Linked DNA regions of Homo sapiens. The protein of the gene in region 3 interacts with the protein of the main gene of each other region in a pairwise test. Each region holds a gene or a part of one and is shown on either strand. Other genes may lie near its edges.

Region 1 (7,034 bases), on a different chromosome or scaffold from region 3:
GTAAATATTTATTCAGTAAATATATAAATGAGTGAGCAAATCAAAACCATGGAATAAATAAATATCTTAGAGATATTTTTCTAACTCTTTTGAAATATCTTTTACTTCTATTAGAGAAAAATACTCAGCATTTTTAACTCATGACATTCTATAAATAAATTAATCCATTATTTGTAATTTACACCAAGATGCTTGTTCAACTCTTTGGCAATGGTAATTTTTCAAAATCAGTCACTGCTATTTGATTTGGTTTCTCAAGAGCTGTGGGCAAAATGTGGTAATAAGAGCATCATTTTAATGGTAAATGAATAAGTGAAGTCACAACAAGATTCAATTAAATTCTAGCCCCAGGTGCAACTACAGATGCTTATGGTCTGTGAAAAATCCCAGTGTATCAGAAAACAACTACAGCAATCAGCTGAATAAAGCTCAATTCCTAAGGGGTCAAACTATTAAACTGTAATTATCTAGAGTAGGCACTAAAAACCATTTACCTAGGTTAATTCTCATGTGTAAACACAATAATGTGGCATTTTATCATTCATATGAACACAGGCCAAAACACTATTGGGCTGCATTTAGCTATTTCATTAAACTTAATTTTATAAAATACATTTAGGAAGCTCCAGCTTCATTGTGTATCTCCTAAAAAGCTCTCATAATATAGTGATCAAGGGCTTATAAACACATTTGAAATTATATCCCGGAATTTTCTCTTCCTAAGAAGTACAAGATACAGAACAATAACTGAAAACTTAAGAAACACTGGAAAAGATATACTAAGAGAATAAGAATGGAAACCAGTTAAAAAGATATATTCATACCAAAGAGTGATTATTGGCCAGGCACGGTGGCTCACACCTGTAATCCCAGCACTTTGGGAGGCTGAGGCAGGTGGATCACCTGAGGTTAGGAGTTTGAGACCAGCCTGGCCAACGTGGCAAAACCCCGTCTCTACTAAAAATACAAAAATTAGCCAGGTGTGGTGGCGCATGCCTGTAATCTCAGCTGCTTGGGAGGCCGAGGCAAAAAAATTGCCTGAACCCGGGAAGCAGAGGTTGCAGTGAGCCGAGATCATCCCACTGCACTCCAGCCTGGGCAACAGATTGCAAGACTCCACATCTCAAAAACAAAAAAAAAGAGCAATTATTAAAACCACAGACTATGTCATCATTGAAACCCTATCGACGAGTCCTTATCTTTTAAAGAAATGTGCTGAAATATTCACAGATAAAATGATAGGATATCTAGGGATGTGCTTCAAAACCATTTAGCAAGAAGGGAACAGGGAAGGCTACATAGGATACACTAAGCAAGGCTGGCCGTGAGACGATCGTTATTAAAGAGGGTGGTAGGTGCGTCACACACACTCTTCTCATTCTATAAATGTTTGAAATTCTCCATCATCAACGGTTTAAAAAATTAACCTTATCTCTTAATTGTAGAAAATTCTGTGGCTATTTTAAATTGTGTTCTTTTTTTTTTTTTTGAGACGGAGTCTTGCTCTGTCACCAGCCTGGAGTGCAGCAGTGTGATCTTGGCTCACTGCAACCTCCGCCTCCTGGATTCGAGTGATTCTCTTGCCTCAGCCTCTCGAGTAGCTGGGACTACAGGCACACACCACCATGCCTGGCTAATTTTTGTATTTTTAGTAGAGACGGAGTTTCACTATGTTGGCCAGGCTGGTCTTGAACTCCTGACCTCAGGTGATCCGCCCACCTCTGCCTCCCAAAGTGCTGGGATTACAGGCATAAGCCACCACGCCTGGCCCAAAATTGTGCTCTTAAAGACGATTTAAGGATATGAGTAGATGCATATAGTTATTATGCTAAGTGAGATAAACATGAACAACATGATCCAGAAGGTGTGTATCTGGAATGGTAACAACTGTTATCTCTTGGTGGCAGCATTACAAGATGATTATATTTTCTTCTGTACACTTTTATAGTTTTTCAAAATTCTCTACAATGAACAGGAATTAGTTACAAAATCAGGGGAAAACCATAAATGTTATTAAAAAATAAAATAAAAGTAATCGTTACCATTTTCCTCTGACACCGCATATTCAAACAGATTGTTTAGCTTTGGTAAAACTGGCTTTATAACATGTATCTAAAAATAAGAGCAAAAAAATCATATGAAATGAAAATGCATCTTGAAAAATGTCAGGCAATTTTCATCTCTTTATTTCACAGTAGCTCTTCTGTTTCTACAAAACATATGTAGAAAGAGCCTGATTTATCCAGTTTTTCAAACAATAGTATGATTCAGGTATGTAAGACTGAGTATGGCAAAGCTAATGAATATAACCACATTACAGCTACATTAAAGTCTACCATTTATACAGTGATTATCATAAATCATGTCATAGAATCCTCAACTGTCCTGGCAGGCAGGTAGGACTGCCAATACTAAGATATTACAAAGAGAAAAAAGACACTGAAATGTTTTCTCTAGTCACTCAAGTTGTTCATGGCTGCACACGCTTAGAACGGCCAGTTCGGAGTTCCATGTTCTTAATACCACATAGCCAAAGTTGCTGACACGTTTGCTTGAGATTAATTTACATATCCTTCAAAATATGGATAAATTTGGGTTTCTAAATAAATAATGGGGGTTTTATGGATCTACTGATTAAAGAAAACCATAAAAGTTAATTTGAATTTAGAAATGCTTTTTCTTTACTCCTCATCCTTGCATCTATATATATTTAGCACATATAAGTAATTATTTAAGTCCACAAACAAGGTTTGGTGCACATTTGGATTGACACCTCACAATGACTCCACAGATGGCTGGCACCTCTGTGGTCCCCAACTTGCAGAATGGAAACCATGGTTCTCAAAGTGTAGTTCCCAGAACAGCAGCATACATATCACCTGGGAACTTGTAAAAAACTCAAAAGTCCTGGACGGGTGCGGTGGCTCACGCCTGTAATCCCAGCACTTTGGGAGGCCAAGGCGGGTGGATTACTTGAGGTCAGGAGTGCAAGACCAGCCTGGCCAACATGGTGGAACCCCATCTCTACTAAAAATACAAAAATTAGCCAGTGTCGTGGCTGTAGTCCCAGCTACTTGGGAGGCTGAGGCAGGAGAATCACTTGAACCCAGGAGGCGGATGTTGCAGTGAGCTGAGATCGTGCCACTGAACCCCAGCCTGGGCGAGAGAGCAAGACTCTGTCTCCAAAAAAAAAAAAAAAAAAAAAAAAAAAACTCAAAAGTCCCAGGCCCCACCCCGACCTACTGAACCAGAAAGTCTGAGGACAGGGCATGGCAATTTATACTTTATAATAAGCCATTTGGGTGATACTGATACTGATAAACGTTAAAGTTTTAGAATGGCAAGGGAAGATCAAATTTTTGAATAATTTGTCAACTGAAAGTATTCTTTAACTTCCTGAAACAACTTACACTCTAAGTTGCATTTATGCCAGACAACAAAGTATACTTGGATTCTATCATCACCAGCTATATCTGAGTTAGTCTCTTTGTATCGCTTTTAATGAATGTTTTTAAAAAAGAAAAATTGTTATCTACTGTAGGATTTGCTAAAATAGAAAAACACTTACCTGATTTCCTTCTAAAGTCTCCATAATTAAAATATAATTTTCCCAAAACTTTAGAAGCTCATCTTTTTTCCTCTCAGACCACCAAAACAGACTTGGGCCTGATATGGTTTAAAAAAGAAAATTAGTTCTTCCTTTTGCAAATTTCATAAGTTTCTCAATGACAGCAGTTCTTAAAATAATGCCACTATTACCAAATGGATTCTCTAATAATGGAGGTGCCCCTGTATCAGAGCCTGGATAGGGGGCTTGGGAATCTCAGAGGGAGATTTTTTTTTGCACTAAGATTACTGTTTTGGAGTTCTGGGTAAAAATGGCAGATTTGCACATATAAACTCTACTTTCTCTCCCTAAGAATCTCACTATAACAGTAAAGGATTTTTCAAGGGCAAAACCCCAAAAGAATGGAGAACACTGGGGGCAGACAACAGCAATAAAATACAGAATCTGAAAATCAGATGAAAACCAAGTTGACTCAAGTCATGAGAATTTTAAGTTGACAAAGGGAAAGCCAGGAAACAATTTGATTTATGCTGCAAAATCCCCCGGAACCAAAGGAAGTGGCTGCAAAAGTTACTCTGGTAAGTGGAGTGAAAAGTGAGGCTAAACCAAAGAGGATGTGTTCAGTGTTTAAGAAACAGTCACATCCCCAGGCCACTTTCCTATGTCCTGAACAGGAAAAGACTAGAACTGCTTTTCTGGAGAAGGTAAAATAGTGCGTCTCTGAATTGGGAGGCACAGGACACAGCAGACATTAGTCCTACTGACAAAGGGGATTCAGCGAACATGTGTGCACCCTGGGTGCTGCGACTCCTCTCTACCTGCCCCCTCAGGTCCTAGAATGCTGGCCAGGCCCTCACTATGCATCAGACAACTGGAAGATGTTCTCTGCAGAATCTGGCCAGCCCAGGAGGAAAGATCTGAAAATATATCAGAGATTCCTTAATGAAATGGCTTGGCCAAATCACCTTATGGTGAAGTTCAGTCAACAGCACCACTCATGGGCTTAGAGCTTTAAACCCAATTTTGATTTCTTATCCTTAAACATAAATAGGGATCTAAGAATCATCAGACAGTTGGGGAAACCTCTACACTAAAGATCAAGACCAAAACAAATGGAGTGGGAGGAGGAAATTGGAGAAAACAAAATTACACAGGTAGAAGAAAACTTTTAAAAGAGTTTTCAGCAATATCTTAAGAAGATAGTAGTATTATAAGAACAGGATATTATTAAAAAGGGGACATTCTGACCAGGCTTGGTGGCTCATGCCTGTAATCCCAACACTTTGGGAGGCTGAGGCAGGAGGATTGCTTGAGGCCAGGAGCTTGAGACCAGCCTGGTACAACATAGCAAGACCCTGTCTCTACAAGGAAATTTAAAAAATTATCAGGGCATGGTGGTGCACACCTATCGTCCCAGCTTCTCTGGAGGCTGAGATGAGAGGATCACTTGAGCCCAGTATTTTGAAGTTATAGTGAGCTATAATCACGCCACTGCACCCTAGCCTGGGCAAGAGCGAGGATTTGTCTCTAAAACACACACACACACACACACACACACACACACACACACACACAAAGGGGACATTTAAAAAAAAAAACTCAATCCAAAATCATAGAAAATCCTTAGGAGAGAAAAGATGCTTTCAAGAAAGTCCAGGAAGTTCAATATCTAAAAAAAGAACAGAAAACAGAAAGGGACGAAATAATCCACAGAATATTCTAGAAAATTTCCCAGAACTGAAGAACATGATTTCCAGATTGCACAGGAGGTCCAGCAAGTGCCCAGCACAAGGATGAAAATAGACTCCTATCAAAACTGTGAAATTTCAGAATGCTAGAGCCACTGATCCTACACACTTCCATAGAGAGAAACAGTTCCTGTATAAATAAACAGGATTCAGAATGGTTTCAGATTTCTCAACAGCAATACTGGAAGCTCTAGCTTCTGGGACAATAGATAGATACCTTTAAAATTTTGAATGGAAATATCTTCCAGGCTCGAATTCTACCCTCAGTCAAACCATCAATGAAATATGAGGACAAAATAAAGGCATTTAGATATGTATCGTTTCAGTTGCTCATTAGGACATAGAAAACCATAGGAGATCGTTATTGTCATACAAAGAGGAAAGGCTGAAAAATCTACAAAATCCTAAACTGTTGTGCGGTGGGTGGGGGGAGCATCAGAACTGAGGTCACAATGCAACCTGAATTCTAAAAGGAAGGAAGGCGCTCCAAGAATGGAAAGGCCACTTATCTGTTCTACTTCTGGCACAGGAGCAAGACATGGTCACCCAAAAAGCAGTTTTAAAAATGGCATTTTGACAAGTTTTTAAAGACCAAGGTGGGCTAGCCTCACAGCTTGCTGAGGGAGTCCACATCCATTCACCAGCTCTTTTCTTCAAGCCTGCCCCGGTGCTCTCGAGAGAGACTGTGGCCAGGGCAGGAGATCTTCAGAGGCGCAGGCACCCAGGGCAGCAGGACTAACTAGAGAGGCCCAGCCATGCCCTGCAGGAGTACAAGATGGTGATCAACTGCCAAAACGTGCCTGTCCCCCTGGACCCTTCTCCGACAGGAAGCCAAAGCTGTCTGCCCCTCCCACACTCTCACCCTTGTCCCTGCCTTGATACAAGCAAAAGTTGCCTGCCTCTAGGGCAGGGATAGAACCTGCTCCCTTCACTCGGCACTGACACTAGGCGAATGCATCTTATTCTGTGGAAGGGGAAGCAAACCCCCTACTGCCAGATATCCTGCACTGATACAAAGCTGGTCTGCAGGTGCTGGAGGAGGGCAGGACGCTACACCCAAGACCTACCACAGACACTCACGCAGAATGCAGCTGCCACAGGTTAGGGCCAGGAACCTAAACGCACCCCTAAGTTGGAGGCAACGATTATTGCCACTGGAGAGGGAGCACAGACAGCGAAAGAGCAGGAATGCTGACGCTCAGACACATGGGGCCTAAATACAAGGCTGCAGTGGAAGAAATGAAAAGCCCCTGCCTCATCTCTTGCACCAGGGAACAAGCATCAGCAGTCTACCCCTGAGGGAGGGACGAAGCCTTGGCTGAAGACCTCCATCGGTGGCACAGGCCTCCCAGGCTGGAGAAAAACCTTTCGAGACTCCAGGCTTCAGCTAAGCAAGTAGCCACAAAATCTGGGAAAAGTTTGTAAAGTGCACTGAAAACAAATACAGCAACCAACGCCAAACCCAGCTCAACTACAAACTAGACTAACTCAATGCCACAAAGTAACGGTGCCTATCCCAGGCAGAAATATTTACTTCCATCTCTACTGTTATTATAGTAAGACATAAAAAAAAGCGACTCCATAGCCAAACACTACAACAGAAAACAAAGCCAAACTTAGATGGTCCAGGTATCGAACTTGCAGATAACTATAATTGATATGCTAAAGGATCTTGTGGAAAAGGTAAACAATATGCATAAACAGATGAGCAGATGGGG
Region 2 (7,034 bases), on a different chromosome or scaffold from region 3:
TGCTGGGATTACAGGCGTGAGCCACTGCGCCCAGCCAATTTAATTTAACTTTTTAAGAAGTTGCCAAACTGTTTTCCAAAGTAGCTGTATGATTTTTTTATTCCTGTCAGTAGTGTGTTGTTTCATTTTCAGATATTTGTGGATTTTCTGGGTTTTCTTCTATTGTTGCTTTTAACTTAATTCCACTGCGATCAGAGAATGTATGAACATGTCGTGCTATGTTAGTATTATTATTATTTTGAGATGGAGTCTCGCTCTGTCGCCCAGGCTGGAGTGCAATGGTGCCATCTGGGCTCACTGCAAGCTCCACTTCCCAGGTTCAAGGGATCCTCCACCTCAGCCTCTCAGCCTTCTGAGTAGCTGAGATTACAGGCACGCACCATCACGCACCTATAATCACACCCAGCTAATTTTTTTTTTTTTTTTTTTTGTTTGAGACGGAATCTCGCTCTGTCGCCCAGGCTGGAGTGCAGTGGCACGATCTCGGCTCACTGCAACCTCCGCCTCTCGTGTTCATGCCATTCTCCTGCCTCAGCCTCCCAAGTAGCTGGGACTACAGGCACCTGCCACCATGCCAGGCTAATTTTTTTTTTTTTCAGTGGAGACGGGATTTCACCGTGTTAGCCAGGATAGTCGATCTCCTGACCTCGTGATCCACCCACCTTGGCCTCCCAGAGTGCTGGGATTACAGGTGTGAGCCATCACACCCGGCGTATTTTTTGTATTTTTAATAGAGATGGGGGTCTCACCATGTTGGCCAGGCTGGTCTCAAACTCCTGATCTCAAGTGATCCGCCTGCCTTAGCCTCCCAAAGTGCTGGGATTACAGGCATGAGCCAGCACACCCAGCCTCATATTTTTATTGTTTTAATCCTTTTAAATTTATTGAGACTTGTTTCATGACCTAGTATATGGTCTATCTGGGGAATGTCCTAGGTTCACTTGAGAAGATGTGATATTATGCTGTTGAGGGTGCAGTGCTGTATAGGTGTCAGCGAGGCCACATCGGTTAATAGTGTTCAAGGCTTGTATGTCCTTGCTGATTTTGTCTTGTCCTATTCATTATCAAGAGTAGACTATTGAGGCTGGGCATGGTGGCTCACACCTGTAATCCCGCCACTTTGGGAGGTCAAAGTGGTTGGATCACCTGAGGTCAGGAGTTCAAGACCAGCCTGGCCAACATGGTGAAATCCTGTCTCTACTAAAAATACAAAAAAATTAGCTGGGCATGCTGGTGCGCGCCTATAGTCCCAGCTACTTGGGAGGCTGAGGCAGGAGAATTGCTGGAACCCGGGAGGCGTAGGTTGCAGCGAGCCAAGAGCGCGCCACTGCACTCCAGCCTGGGAGACAGAGTGAGACCAAAAAAAAAAAAAAAAAAAAAGAGCAGAGTATTCAAGTTTCCAACTATTACTGTTGAATTATCTTATTTCTCTCTTTGTCAGTGTTTGCCTTATGTATTTTGGAACTGTCTTAGGTCTGTATGTTTATATTTGTGCATCTTCCTGATGAATTGACTCTTTCATTATAAAATACTATTCTTTGTCTCTAGTACTATTTTGTGTTAAAGTCTATTTTGTCTGGTAGTAGTATAGCCACGTTAACTCTCTCGTGGTTACTGCATACATGGTGTACTTTTTTCAGCCCATTCATGTCTTTAAATTTAAAGTGTATCTTTGGATTTTTTTTTTTTTCTGTCACCCAGGCGGGAGTGCAGTGGTGCGATCTTGGTTCACTGCGACCTCCACCTCCCGGTTTCAAGCGATTATCCTACCTCAGCCTCCTGAGTAGCTGGGATTACAGGTGCTTGCCACCACGCCTGGCTAATTTTTGTATTTTTAGTAGAGACAGGTTTCACCAAGTTGGTTAGGCTGGTCTTGAACTCCTGACCTCATGATCCGCCTGCCTCAGCCTTCCAAAGTGCTGGGATTACAGGTGTGAGCCACCGCACCCGGCCGTATCTTTTTTTTTTTTTTTTTTTTTTTTTTTTTTTAAAGACAGTCTTGCTCTTGTTGCCCAGGCTGGAGTACAGTGGTGTGACGTTGGCTCACTGCAACCTCTGCCTCCTGGGTTCAAGCAATTCTCCTGCCTCAGTCTCCCAAGTAGCTGGAATTACAGATGCACACCACCACACCCAGCTAATTTTTGTATTTTTAGTAGAGACGAGGTTTTGCCATGTTGTCCAGGTTGGTCTCGAACTCCTGACCTCAAGTGACCCACCCACTTTAGCCTCCCAAAGTGCTAGAATTACAGGCGTGAGCCACTGCGCCCGGCCTTGCCTTCACTTTTGAAGGATTGTTTTGCTATATATAGAATTCCTGGATGAACAATTTTTTCTTTACTTTGAATATATTATCTTACTGCTGTCTGGCTTCTATTGTTTCTAATGAGAAGACAATTCATCTTATTTTAGCTCTCTTGTATGTGATGAATCAAACCATGTTTTTTCTTTTCTTTTCTTTTTTTTAAAGACAGGATCTTGCTGTGTCACCCAGACTGGAGTGCAGTGGTGCAATCATAGCTTACTACTATAGCCTCAAACTCCTGGGTTCAAATGATCCTTCCGCCTGGGCCTCCCAGAGTATTGGGATTACAGGTGTGAGCCAGCGCGCCCAGCCTCTTATTGTTTCTTCACATATTTTTTCTGCCTTATTTTCTCCTCCTCTTCTGGGACTCTTGTTAGTCATATGTTGGTTCACTTGACAGTGCCCCGTAGGTGCTGAGGCGCTGCTCATTTTTCTTATGATTTTCTATTTATTTTTTATAAAGACAAGGTTTTGCCATGTTGCCCGGGCTGGTCTTGAACAGCTGGGTTCAAGCAGTCTGCCCACCTTGGTTTTCCAAAGTGCTGAGATTACAGGTGTGAGCCACAGCATCCAGCCCAGTAGTTTTTCTTGATTAAATGCTTTTCAATTTGTTTTTTGCCTTGGTCAATTTGCAGAGTCCAGAAATGGATGTTTTTGACAATTGTGTCCAGTTTTCTTTCAATTTGTTTTATTTTCAAAGAGATAAGGTCTCCCTATGTTGCCCAGGGTGGTCTGGAACTGCCGAGCTCAAGTGATCCTCCCGTCTCGGCCTCCCAGAGTGCTAGGATTATAGGTGTGAGCCACCGCACCTGGCGTGGTGTCCAGTTTTATTGTTACTTTTTTTGGGAGGGGATTTGTTGAGCTCCTTTCTCTGACATTCTGGAAGTCTAACCCCGATCTTTATAATGGCTGCATTGTGTTCCATATTTTGGCTGTCCCATTGTTTATTTGTTAGTTCCCAGTTGATGGTGTAGTGTAGGTTGCTTCTGCTTTTTCCCAGGCAAAGCATTCTGCACTGAGCACCCCGGCCCTTGCTCTTCAGCAAGCTCTTCCTGAGCCCTCTCCTGTAGATCAGAGTAGCCTGAGCCTGACCTTCTTCCTCACGCTTCAACTCTGTTTTCTCAGGGAAGACACTGATCAAGGTGGCAGAAGCTGAAAAGCAACTGGGAGCCGCGGAGAGGGATTTTATCCACACGGCCTCCATCAGCTTCCTCACACCCTTGCGCAACTTCCTGGAGGGGGACTGGAAGACCATCTCGGTGAGGGCCCTGGGACTATTCCGCTTCCTGGTAACCATGGCAGTTCCCTCCTCAGAGCCTTTGAGTACAGGCTCTCTTCCAGTGCTGGGGCTACAAAACTCCTGAGGCCTCCCCAGAGAGGGCTCCTTTGGACTGAGTGACCTCCTATCTCTGGGCCTCAGTTTCCCTATCTTGACTTGATCGTCCCCGGCACCAATCTTGCCATGCATGGCTCAGGGTCTCCCAGGGCAGCCCAGGGTCTCACTGTCCCCATGCCCTGCCCTGTAGAAGGAGAGGCGGCTCCTCCAAAACCGGCGTCTGGACTTGGATGCCTGCAAAGCGAGGCTGAAGAAGGCCAAGGCTGCAGAAGCCAAAGCCACGGTAGGTGTCCCCGCTCCCCGCTGGCCTCCTGGCCCAGGCTCTGGCTGGAGCCAAGGGGTGGTGGCATGAAGGGACCTGGTATTTGGCATGACCTCTCTCCCCTCTCCCTGGCTGGAGATGCCTGGCTGGGGGCTGCTGGGCTGAGCCTCTCTGTCCCTGCCCTCAAGGGAGCCTTGGTGGCCCCCGAGCTCTGGTTCCCAGGGAGATATCTACGGTGTGGGCGGACCAGCAGTGCCCCCAGCTGGGTGCACCACCCCGCCAGGCAGCTGGAGTCTCCTGCATGCCCTGCCCTGCCCTCCTAGATGCTCGGCTCTGTCCCCGGCTCTGCCCGGGCATGGCACCTTCTTACTAACTCTACTACTTGCTGCTTGAACGTCAGGCCGAGGGTCCCTGTGCTCAGGCGCCCCCACGATGGTGTGGAAAACCTGGGAGCTGGACCGCCCGCTTGCTCAGGGCCGTGTCCGAGGGGTCCCATGAGATTGGATAGGGCCTGGGCCATCTGGCGCCCCCTTCACTCCCAGCTCACTGAGGCCTGTTCAGCCTGGCTGGGTCAATGGGACGCAGCCTGGGACAGTGTGCCCAGGGCGAGGCCAGGATTGGAGGAGCTGGGCCCAAGGGTGAACACCCTCCTGGCACAAGAGGTTGCTCAGGGCTGCCAGGCCTAAAGGCTGCCTCATACCTTGCAGAGGGAACTCCCAGGCCCAGGCCTACTAGGGAGATGGCTACCTGTGGCTGCCAGCTGATTAGCCGAGGGAGGCCAGGCCTAGCCTGGGCTCACAGCTGCCCATGCACCTTGCGTTCCCCTCCCATAGTGTGGCCCCAGAGCCAGCACTGCCCCTGGCGAGAACCGTCTCAGGTCACTCAAGTGTGTGGGGTCTAGATCAGAGGCAGGGGTGTAGTTGTTTCAATCTTGGGGTTGGCTAGGGTGACCTGTGCCTATTGGGATGACCTCTTCTAAGGCACCTGAACAGGACAGTCTCCCCCGTCACTTCGGGCCAGACACCGTCTCTGGAGTAACTCAGCCAGAACACACTCTCTCCATCAGCCAGGCCAGAGGAGCCTTTCCTGTCATTGCAGTGGTGTGGCCTCTCCCTCACCTGGTGGGCCTGGACAACCTCACATCCTGGGGTTGGGCCAGGCCACCTTTCCAGAGCTAGGACTTGGGCAGCCCCAGGAACAGCATTCCAGAGGACTCAAGCTCCACAGCTCTGTCCCCATAAGCACGCACACGTTAGGACTCTTCAGGAGGGCAGGCTGTGGTGCCTCCCTCCGCCCGACCGCCTGGTGTCCCCTCCCACTGGGGCCTGGGGGGCCTGCTCCTGCCTGCGCTGTGGACTCACTAACTCTTTGTTTTTGTTCCTTTCCGTCCTGCTTTGGGTAACTTGGCTCAGTGTGAGGGAGATGTGAGTATACCTGTCCCACGCGCTGTGCTGCTTCCGGTCTGCCCATCTTGCCCGTGGACCCACGGTGCCATGGCCAGCCCACGTCCTTGGGGCATTTTGCAAGCAGCTGGTCTCCCCGCCAGAGCCTCTACTGTGCAGGGCCTCTGGTTTAGGGGGGGATGCCAGGCGTTGGGGCCTGTGAGTCAGCTTTTTGCAAATGTTGGACGCCTGTCACTCTGTCTGCCCATGCATCCATCTGTCCACCTTCATTGTCGGGAGGGGCCTGGCCCTTGATGCAGGAGCAAGAGATGTGGTGTGCGGATTCTGGGATGGAAAAAGCCATCCCAGTTGGGGGTGGGCTGTGTTTGCGGGACCCTGGGGCATCTGAGTGCCACTGGTCTGGGGAGGAGGGGGCTGTGGCCCCTGGCAGGGGAGAGCCCAGCCTGTGACTTGCTCAGGCAGCCTCGGCCATCTCCTCACCGCATTTGCTCTCCTGAGCTCCAGTGCCTGCAGCCACTTGATCTTTGTCTGGACTCTCCAAGTCCCTAGGCCCCTCATCTCCAGGTGGTTGGAGTCGGGAGAAGGGGGTTTGTGTTGTGTTTGTATCCCCGTCCCTGGGGTCAGGCCTCTTGGCATCTCCTTGTGCAAGACTCTGGGGTAGCCTCCTGACCTCGACCCTGGCCCTGGCCCAGGGTGACCCCCTCCCCACATGAACTCTGTTCCCCGCCAGACGGTGCCTGACTTTCAGGAGACTAGACCTCGTAATTACATTCTCTCGGCCAGCGCCTCCGCGGTAAGCGCACCCCACCCCCACCCCACCCCTCGTCCTCCTCTCTCCCCACGTCCCACACCACTGCCTCTGACTGCACAGGAGCTAGAAGCCAGCTTGGGTAAGGCGGGGGCACTGCCATGTGATCAGGTCAGTCCTGAGACACTGGGGAGGGGCAGCAGCCCCCACCTCTGTCCACGGCCTGGCCCCGGTGCCCTGTGGCCATGGAGCTGGACTTGTTTCCCTCTGCAAAACGCTGGAGCTGGCGGCAGGGCCAGCCACACTGAGTAGTGTGGAGAACTCAGGGCGGCAGCTGTCCCATCCCCAGGGCCCCTCCACCTCCTGCTGTCTCTGAATGCCAGGCCCTGGGGAGGCCCTGAGGATAGAGGAGGAGGCCTGGCCGTGCCTTTCTGGAGTTCACAGACCCCTAAAGACAGGAGGCAGGGATGGCGTCGTAGGCCTGGAGAGCGCCTGGGGGGCGGGAGGGCCTGAGGCTGTGCTTAAGGCCCAGAGGTCCTGGAGCAGGGCATGTCTTGTCCTGAGGCTTAGGCAGGGCCCCCAGGGGAGTTGGGGCAGGAGGTGGGGAGGACAGGATCGTGGAGGCTTCGCATGTCATGGTGTCTGTTGGTTTTTAGGCTTTCTTGGGAAGTCTGGTGTTTCCTATGTAGTTTGGGGACTAGGCCACACCTCTCCCTCATGCTTGTCACCACTGCTACACCTTGTCTGCCCACTTTCTCTCCTTCCCGCCCCTGGAGGTGAGACCCTCACCTCTCTCGTGAGCATGCTGCCTCATGTCTTCCGTGCCGTCGTTCTGTGGCTGGGTGACTGTCCCTCAGGCCGCCAACCCTAGTTGGCTCTCACAGCAACTTCCAGTGCTCCTGGACGGGGACTTCCTAAGCAGCATGGGGGCCACACGGGCCGGCCACGCACACTGGCCTGGGTCCGCATTCCCTATTTCAGGC
Region 3 (7,728 bases):
AAGAAAGTTTCACAAGCTGTGAGATTGATTTATTGTGCAAAAAGTTAATAGTAATTCTACATATTTATCAACTGGCAGCACAAAAAAAGGATGACAAACTACAAATAAGAATTCTTAATGCTTACAGTGAATGTTCACAAGAATTCCCTAGCCTTAAAAAATTCTTAACGTTTAAAAGATAAAGATGAAACTCAACCACTGCATCATGCCAAAAGAATTAAATTTAAAATCTGAATTTTCATATTAGCAACTTAAGTCATTTAAGTCATTTTTTTTTAAGAGATAGGGGTCTCAATATGTTACTCAGGTTGGAATCAAACTCCTGGGCTCAAGCTGTTCTCCCACCTCAGCCTCCTGAGTAGCTAGGACTATAGGTGCACACCACCACACCTGGCTCAATCATAAAATTTTAATGAGAAACTATTTTCACATTCTATTAATGTATTTCCAATATACCTGGAAATATGTATTTGAAAATAAATATATTTCCAATTTTAAAACAATTTAAATTTCTACTCAACTCTAAAGATGTCATAAAATAATTTATGTGACACTGCAAAACAATATATTTTCAATACAACTACTACTATTGCATTTTGTATCCATTTCAGTCCAAATTTGCAAACACGTCTTCTAATATAAGGACCAGGCAATGACAACTTCATTACGAAGCAGAAAACCTGTGAATAAAGCATGTCAGTATTGCTGCAAAACATGAATGAGGGATCTAGTATTGCACTTAGGGAAAAACTAGTTAAGGATTTTGCCTGGCCTATATATATTACACGTATGCAACAATTTTGCTTAATGTGTTACAGTTTGTGAAATACACTACCGTAATCTTCCATATGTTTAAGTGAAGAACTTTTTATTCTCTTTGACTTTTAAATTCCAAGTAATAACATCTGATTTCAAAAAAGTGGCCCATTACTGTCAGTTATGGCAATGTGTTGTCACCCAAACCCAGGTTTCAACCAAATAAATATTATGTTGATAATGAAGAACATTCTCCAATATATTTCTTCTACCTATGAGATACCTTATTACCACAGCCTTGAAAGCAAGATTTACAAAGGTTCATGTACAAAGTATTTTACTGATTGATTCCAATGCCTGCAGGATACGGCACTCCCCCAAACAATTCTCAATTATTCTCAACTATTAAGAAATGTTCTGAGAACTTAAATTGAGATGGCTGAAAGCATTTCCAAAAGTTAAGATAATTAAAGCAATAATGCCACGGTTAATCAATCAAAATGTACGTGCGTGCACTTATGCAGTATTCTCGTCAAAAATGTATTACCTGAATCTCGTCACGAATATAAAGATATATATATACACATATCTCTATATACCTCATCTATATATCTCATCTATATAAACTCAGATTATGAGTCATATTACAAGACAAAATGAACTACAAAACAAAATATCAATGTCACGACTTTAGAATCTTTAAAAGGGGACGGGACTGTCCTAGATTAAAGGAGATAACTATTAATACATGGATTACTTGGCATATTCAAGGGAGACAGTGTTATCTAATTACATACTAGATCAAAAGCAGACAAAAAAGCATTATTAAAATAACTGGGGAAATTTTAATAATCAACTGTAGCCAAAAACAGACAAAATGCTCGTAAAAGGAACATGGATGTTCAATGTATTACTCTTTCAACTTTTCTGTATGCATGAAATATTCCAAAACAAAAAGCAGAGAAGAAAAACTTAAAAAGTAAATTTTAAATATCCACACAACTTTTATATAGTTATGCAACAGCACTGTTATAACCTGAGATAGAAAACTAAAGAAAAATAGGTCTAAATGCATCACTAGGAAATAAATCAAAATTTTTTTAAAGAAATAAATCTTGGGTAACAATTACCCCTTCCCTCAAAGGATTTTGATATAATGAACAAAAAACGGAGGATCTTAATACTGTAAGATCTACCATTAAAAAAGAAAAAAAGTTTGTGTGCAAGAATGTGAACAACCTACAAACCCCTTGCGAGTTTTCTAAATAATATCGTACGAGGGAAATTTTACCATTCCAAAATACACTATCTGGGAAGTGGCCGCGAGCTGTGAATGCCAGCCAAGATCTGGACTTTAAATGTATACGGGAGGGATAACCCTGCACCGACTTACACTTTTTCTGAAAGCTTTGGGACAGTGTGACCTTTCAGGAGGAAAATTTAATCTGCTGTCAAAAGGGCTAACAGACATGATCTTTGGGAACATGGATGCGCTCGGTTAGATAAACCAAAATGCTAAGTTTGTGCGACCGTCCTGGGAAACAAACACAGCCCCAGTTCCATCTTGTCACCAGCAGCAGGCTTTCTCGTCAGCAAAACGGCCTGACACCAAGGCCTTAAAAACTGGACTGTGGCTCAGGCGCGGTCTCCGCGATTTTCAGAGTGGAAAAACGCTCTGAGACGTTTGCCATGAGGGCTGTTCCGGGCCCACCTGCGGCCATCTTAAGTTCGGGGGGAAATAAGAGGGTGGGGGCACGGAATTCGAAGACCCAGCAGCGAACACAAGTCCCGGAGGCACAGAAAGGGCAACCATTCTAAATCCTTGGTAAGGGCTCCGTGCAGTAGTTAACCCCCCAAATCCGACTAAGGAGAGCAGGACGGCGGAACCCGGGTGCCCTAATCAAATATGGGCACCAAGGTAAGCCGGCGCGATCACGTGACATGCACCGCGCGCCCGCGTCCGCGCTCTCCTCCACGCCTCGGCTCCCGAGGTCTCTATGGCGCCCGCGCCCCTCCCCCAGCCGAGCTCCAGCACTTACTCCGGGGGGTAGAGCCGCAGCTCCTCGATTTCTCCTAGGAAGGAAAAAAGCGTCCGCATCTGCTCGCTGGTCACCGCCGACGACAGATTCGTCACCTGAATCACCGACGTGGGGGTGAGGCCGAAGCCTAAGCCCAAACCGAAGCCGCCGCCGCTGTTCATCCCGATCCCGCTGCCGTTGCCTTCCCGCTCCCCAACGTCTACGACGCGTCAGCGACGGAGCCGGGAAAGCGGAGAACGCGCGGCCGCGAGCGCGCTCCCGCTGGCGAATTCACAGCGCCGGGCAGATCTAGCCGCCCATTTCACAACTCCCCTGCTCCCGGGGCTGCGCGCGCCAGCCGGAAGCGTCGCCCCGGCAACCCGGCGGTTCTCGCGCGGCTGCGGCCTCCAGCTCCCGGGTCCCTGGGGCTGTTGCTGCTCGTTTCACCGCCTGGATTTTTATCGGTGTTTTTGTTTTCCCCAAAAGTCGATGAGAGTCTTGTGCTCATGTCTACCCGGTTCCTTCCGGTCTCGGATTGGGAAACCAAGCGGCCTGGCCTACTGGTGCGGGACTGTAAAGAAGGAATGACTCTTGGACAACACGGAAGAACACTTGACCAAACTATAGGGCAGCCTTATCACATACAGGCAGCACCCCAACTCCAACTATTTTTAAAAGTTGGCAGGCGTCCTAATTGTGAAAAAAACAAAATTTTACAAAATGCGTAGGTTCAGGTTGAATTAAGGAAAGAGGCAGTAAGATGAAGGCTGTGCAGGGGTTGTTTATAACCTGTTTTTAATTCCCTCGTTCCACAGGTGTTGATGTTTATTGAGTGCTATGTCCCAGGCACTATTAGGCAAGGGCACGTAACAGACAGTTAAAGACAGTTCACATAGAACTTGCAACCTAATGAGAGACAACAGTAGTGAGTCCATGGCAGCTGCTCCCAAAATGCCCTCCGCAGATCCCTAAGGGTACCGAGACCTTTTCAGTAAGTTGGCAAGGTCAAAACGATTTTCGTAATAATATTAAGAGTTTCTTGACCTTTTTCACTTTGTTGCCATTTGCACTGGTAACGTAAAAGATTAAACTGCTGACACCTTAGCAGCAATCAAGGCAGTGGCGCCAGTCTTGTACTGGTAGTTGCATTTTGTATTCTTCACATCATACAACATTTAAGGTTTTAAAGTATGCTAGTTTCACTTTAAAAATGTCCTTCACAAATAACTAAAAATTGTATTTTTTTTTCAAATCCATCCTTGCTTACACGTCTTTTAAAGAATATGTGTGAAAAAATGGAAACTACTGCCGCTACATGCCCAAGTGAAATGGTTGTCTCCGGAAAAAGCACTAGTGTAATTCTTTGAATTTTCACCTAAAAATACAAATTTTATTACACTTGTATCCACCAGCTTGAGCTTGACAGCTTGCCAGTACTTAAAGACTTTTCTAGTAAAAGAAGCATTATATTAACAATTTATTTTTGACTATATAATGAAATATGTCAACATTTTTGTGATCTTTACAACTTAGTGGACACCTATTTTTCAAATGGCCAGTGGGTGCCATTACAAAGGCAAAAAGCCTCTGGTATGTGCAAGATAGATTGATGGATTTCAGTGCTTAATTGATGTGGTTTCAGATTCAGTCCACACTGCAATGAAGGCTAAGAAACTACCACATGTAAGTTTGGTACCGTATCAAAGAATAATATCTAGAACTATCTGGAAAGGCTATAAAGTAGTTTTCCCTTTTCCAACACCTTATCTTTATGAGATCAGATTTCCCTCATATATTTCAACCAAAACATATCACAACAGATCGAATACACAGAAAACTCATGATCACAAAGAAGGAAACGTCAGTCACTGTGGTCTACTTGAGGGTGGAGGGTGGAAGGAGGGAGAGGAGCAGAAAAAATTATTGAGCACTGGGCTTAATACCTGGATGATGAAATAATCTGTACAACAAACCCCCATGACATGAATTTATCTATGTAACAAACCTTCACATGTACCCCTGGACCTACAATAAAAGTTGGAAAAAAATAAAGAATACATAGATAGGAGAATTCAGCTGTCTTCTATTAAAGCAGACATTAAAAAGGTTTGAAAAATGTAAAACAATGCCACTCTTCTCACCAATTTTTTGGAAAAATATTTTATCATAAAAATGCATCATTTTGCCTTCAATCTCGGTTTCTAAGAAAAAAATGCGTCATTTCTATTAACATAATGGGCTTATAATTATTTTTAAATGAATCTCAAAATACCAAATTTCTCAGGTTTAATTTATAATGTGGATAGTAATAAAAGCATTTTACAGTCCTTAATAATCTTTAAGAATGTAAAGGGACTCAAGACCAAAATGTTTGAGAATTATTATTACCATAGGTATAAGCATGGAGGAATTCAGAGCACACAGGAGGGCCTCTTAAACTTAGTTCTAATGGAATACTTCCCAGAAGAAATATTGCTTAAGCTGAATATTGAACAAATAGGAATTACCCAGGCAAGGAGGGAAGGAGGAGCAGTGAAGGGCATTCCAGACTGAGCATGTAGAATATGCAAAGGCAGGGTTAAGGTAAAAGAGAGCTCGAGTGAGGTACAGAAGATTCAAAGTCTGTTATTGCTGGGCTGAAAATGACTAGAGATGCATGCAAAGGAATAAGCCTTTATGAAGGGTATTATTTGTCATGGTAGAGATTACTTTATCATAAGCTGGGAGCCACTGAAGACCTCGGAGCTGAAGAGTGACCCTGATCAGATTCATGTTCTAAAATGACTGGCTATGTGCGGTGGCATATGCCTGTAATCCCAGGATTTGGGGAGACTAGGGCAGGAGGATTGCTTGAGCCCAGAAGTTTGAGACCAGCCTGGGCAACATGGAGAGACCCCGTTTCTACCAAACAATAACAACAAAAAAGTAGCCAGGCATGGTGGTGCATGCTTGTAGTCCCAGCTACTGGGGAGGCTGAGACGGGAGGACTGCTTGAGCCTGGGGGTTCGAGGCTACAGTGAAAATGAGTTGTGATTGTGCCACTGCACTCCAGCCTGAGTGACAGAGTAAGACCCTGTCTCAAAAAAGAAAGGAAGGAAGGAAGGAAAGAAAGAAAGTGATGACTGTCACTGCAACCTGGAGATACATTGGAAAGGGTTCAGACTAGAGGCAAAGAAACTGGGTAGGTTATTGCAATAATCTGAATAAGCTATAATGAGGTCATGAACAAAGGTAAGAGGTGGTAGTAATGGAAAGCAAGGAACAGCCCCAAATTTGAGAATCACTGAACTCATTTGAAGATAAAAGGAATAAAAGCTGTCCACTCAGAAAAATATATATGGACATAAACTCACTTTTAGCTACAATTACTGATGCTTTCTGGTCCTCCTGAAGTCCAACCATAGATCTCTCGGATTAACAACTAGTTTTGAACAATTCTCAGACTTTAGTGTGCATCAGAATCAGCCCGTGGGCATGTTACAACAAATTGCTGGTCCCATCCCCAGAGTTTCTAGTTCAATAAGTCTGGAGTGGGGCCTGAAATTTTAATTTCTAACAAGTTCCCAGGTGAGCTCCTTCTTGTGGTCTGCAAACCCCATGTTGAGAACCACTGGTTTAGAAGGTTGTAAAAGCAGTATTCTTAATGGACTTAATCTACTCTTAATAGTAAAGCAGAAGGAGGAGTTTAGATTTATGTCTTGGAGAATTAAGTAAACAGTGTCATAATTTAGGTCCAAAAATATGAAGGAAGAGCAGCTTTGGGAGGAAAGAGCAGAAAATATTGAGATCCCTTATGGACAACATTCTGAAATGAAATTTAGGAAAAATGTCTAGAACTAAGATATAGCACTTGACTTAAGATTGGGAGGAGATATAGATACACCAGGAATGTTTGTAGCAGGAAAAGTGCTGTGGACAACATTAAACAGACAAATACAACAAATAGCCAAAAAAAAAAAATCAAGCCCCAAGGAAAACTGGGAGGGAGGATAGTCACAAAATTTAAAGGAAGAAAAAGGTTTTGGCTCTAGGGGGTATTGTTGTTTTTGTTGTTGTTGTTATAGAGATGAGGTCTCACTATGCTGCCCAGGCTGGTTTCAAACTCTTTCGTGTGGAGAAGAGGTAACAGTATCCCTCTATAAATCTCTCAGGGAAACTTACCAAACCTGGGCCTGTTCCAGCCCTGCCACTCTGGCCAATGTGACTGTTCTACCATGGACTTCTGAGATACATTTTAAAATTCCAACCTCCATGCCATGTTCTGCTTCCAAACTCTGTAATCATTCTCACGGCTCCAATTTTCAGCTATTTCTTTATCTCCAGGCCTCTTGATTTCATCTGCATGCTAACCCAACACCTTCAAATACAACATCATAGGAATAGTGATGGCAAAGTTTCAGTGAAAAAAATAAAAAGAGCTCCTCACAAGGAGGCTCAGGCCCATAAGAGCCAACCAGAAACCAAAAATTCAAAAAAGTAAACCCCAGTAAATACAGCAACAGAAAAAACCAAGAGAAAGATGTACATGATAGATTTTAGGTACTTACTAGACTGAGAACCAGGAGGTGACTTTGGAGAGAGCAGTTCTGGGGTGTACAGGGACAGGAAGAGAATGCTAGAGCTGGGAAAGTATATAAGATAAGTGTGGGATGTACTTACAAGAAGAGGCTTTGATGACTGTTAGTCTTCTTGTTTTGGTTTTGAATGAGTGGGATCTGCTATGAATCTACTCTATGGAATCTGAAAGGAAATTTTGACAGTAGAGAATAATTTAGGAGTAATTTCAGGTAAGGAAAGATCTGTAAGTAGTCTTATGTTTGAAAGAGGAGTGCTGATTATATTCTTAAGAAGAAAGCTAAATAGGTTGTCCTAGAAATAATCAGAAAAAGAGTGAGAACTGTGCATACATAAGTGTGCGTGTGTGTGTGTGCATGCACATGTGTAATGTGTTTTG

Evidence for each region. The genes of interacting proteins can lie anywhere in the genome.
Region 1: the proteins of SREK1 (region 3) and TARBP1 interact in a two-hybrid assay, tested with the Homo sapiens proteins (one study listed by BioGRID).
Region 2: the proteins of SREK1 (region 3) and SH3GLB2 interact in a two-hybrid assay, tested with the Homo sapiens proteins (one study listed by BioGRID).

The regions. Positions count from the first base shown.
Region 1 is NC_000001.11:234,469,146-234,476,179, forward strand, and holds part of TARBP1 (tRNA (guanosine(18)-2'-O)-methyltransferase TARBP1), read right to left. Parts: intron 3,667-7,034; coding exon 3,569-3,666; intron 2,113-3,568; coding exon 2,043-2,112; intron 1-2,042.
Region 2 is NC_000009.12:129,011,298-129,018,331, reverse strand, and holds part of SH3GLB2 (endophilin-B2), read left to right. Parts: intron 1-2,472; exon of another isoform or gene 2,473-2,592; intron 2,593-3,427; coding exon 3,428-3,561; intron 3,562-3,828; coding exon 3,829-3,921; intron 3,922-5,312; coding exon of another isoform or gene 5,313-5,324; intron 5,325-6,033; coding exon 6,034-6,096; intron 6,097-7,034.
Region 3 is NC_000005.10:66,139,605-66,147,332, reverse strand, and holds the start of SREK1 (splicing regulatory glutamine/lysine-rich protein 1), read right to left. Parts: upstream 3,034-7,728; 5' UTR 2,957-3,033; coding exon 2,796-2,956; intron 2,499-2,795; exon of another isoform or gene 2,150-2,498; intron 1-2,149. UniProt on the Homo sapiens protein: Participates in the regulation of alternative splicing by modulating the activity of other splice facors. Inhibits the splicing activity of SFRS1, SFRS2 and SFRS6. Augments the splicing activity of SFRS3.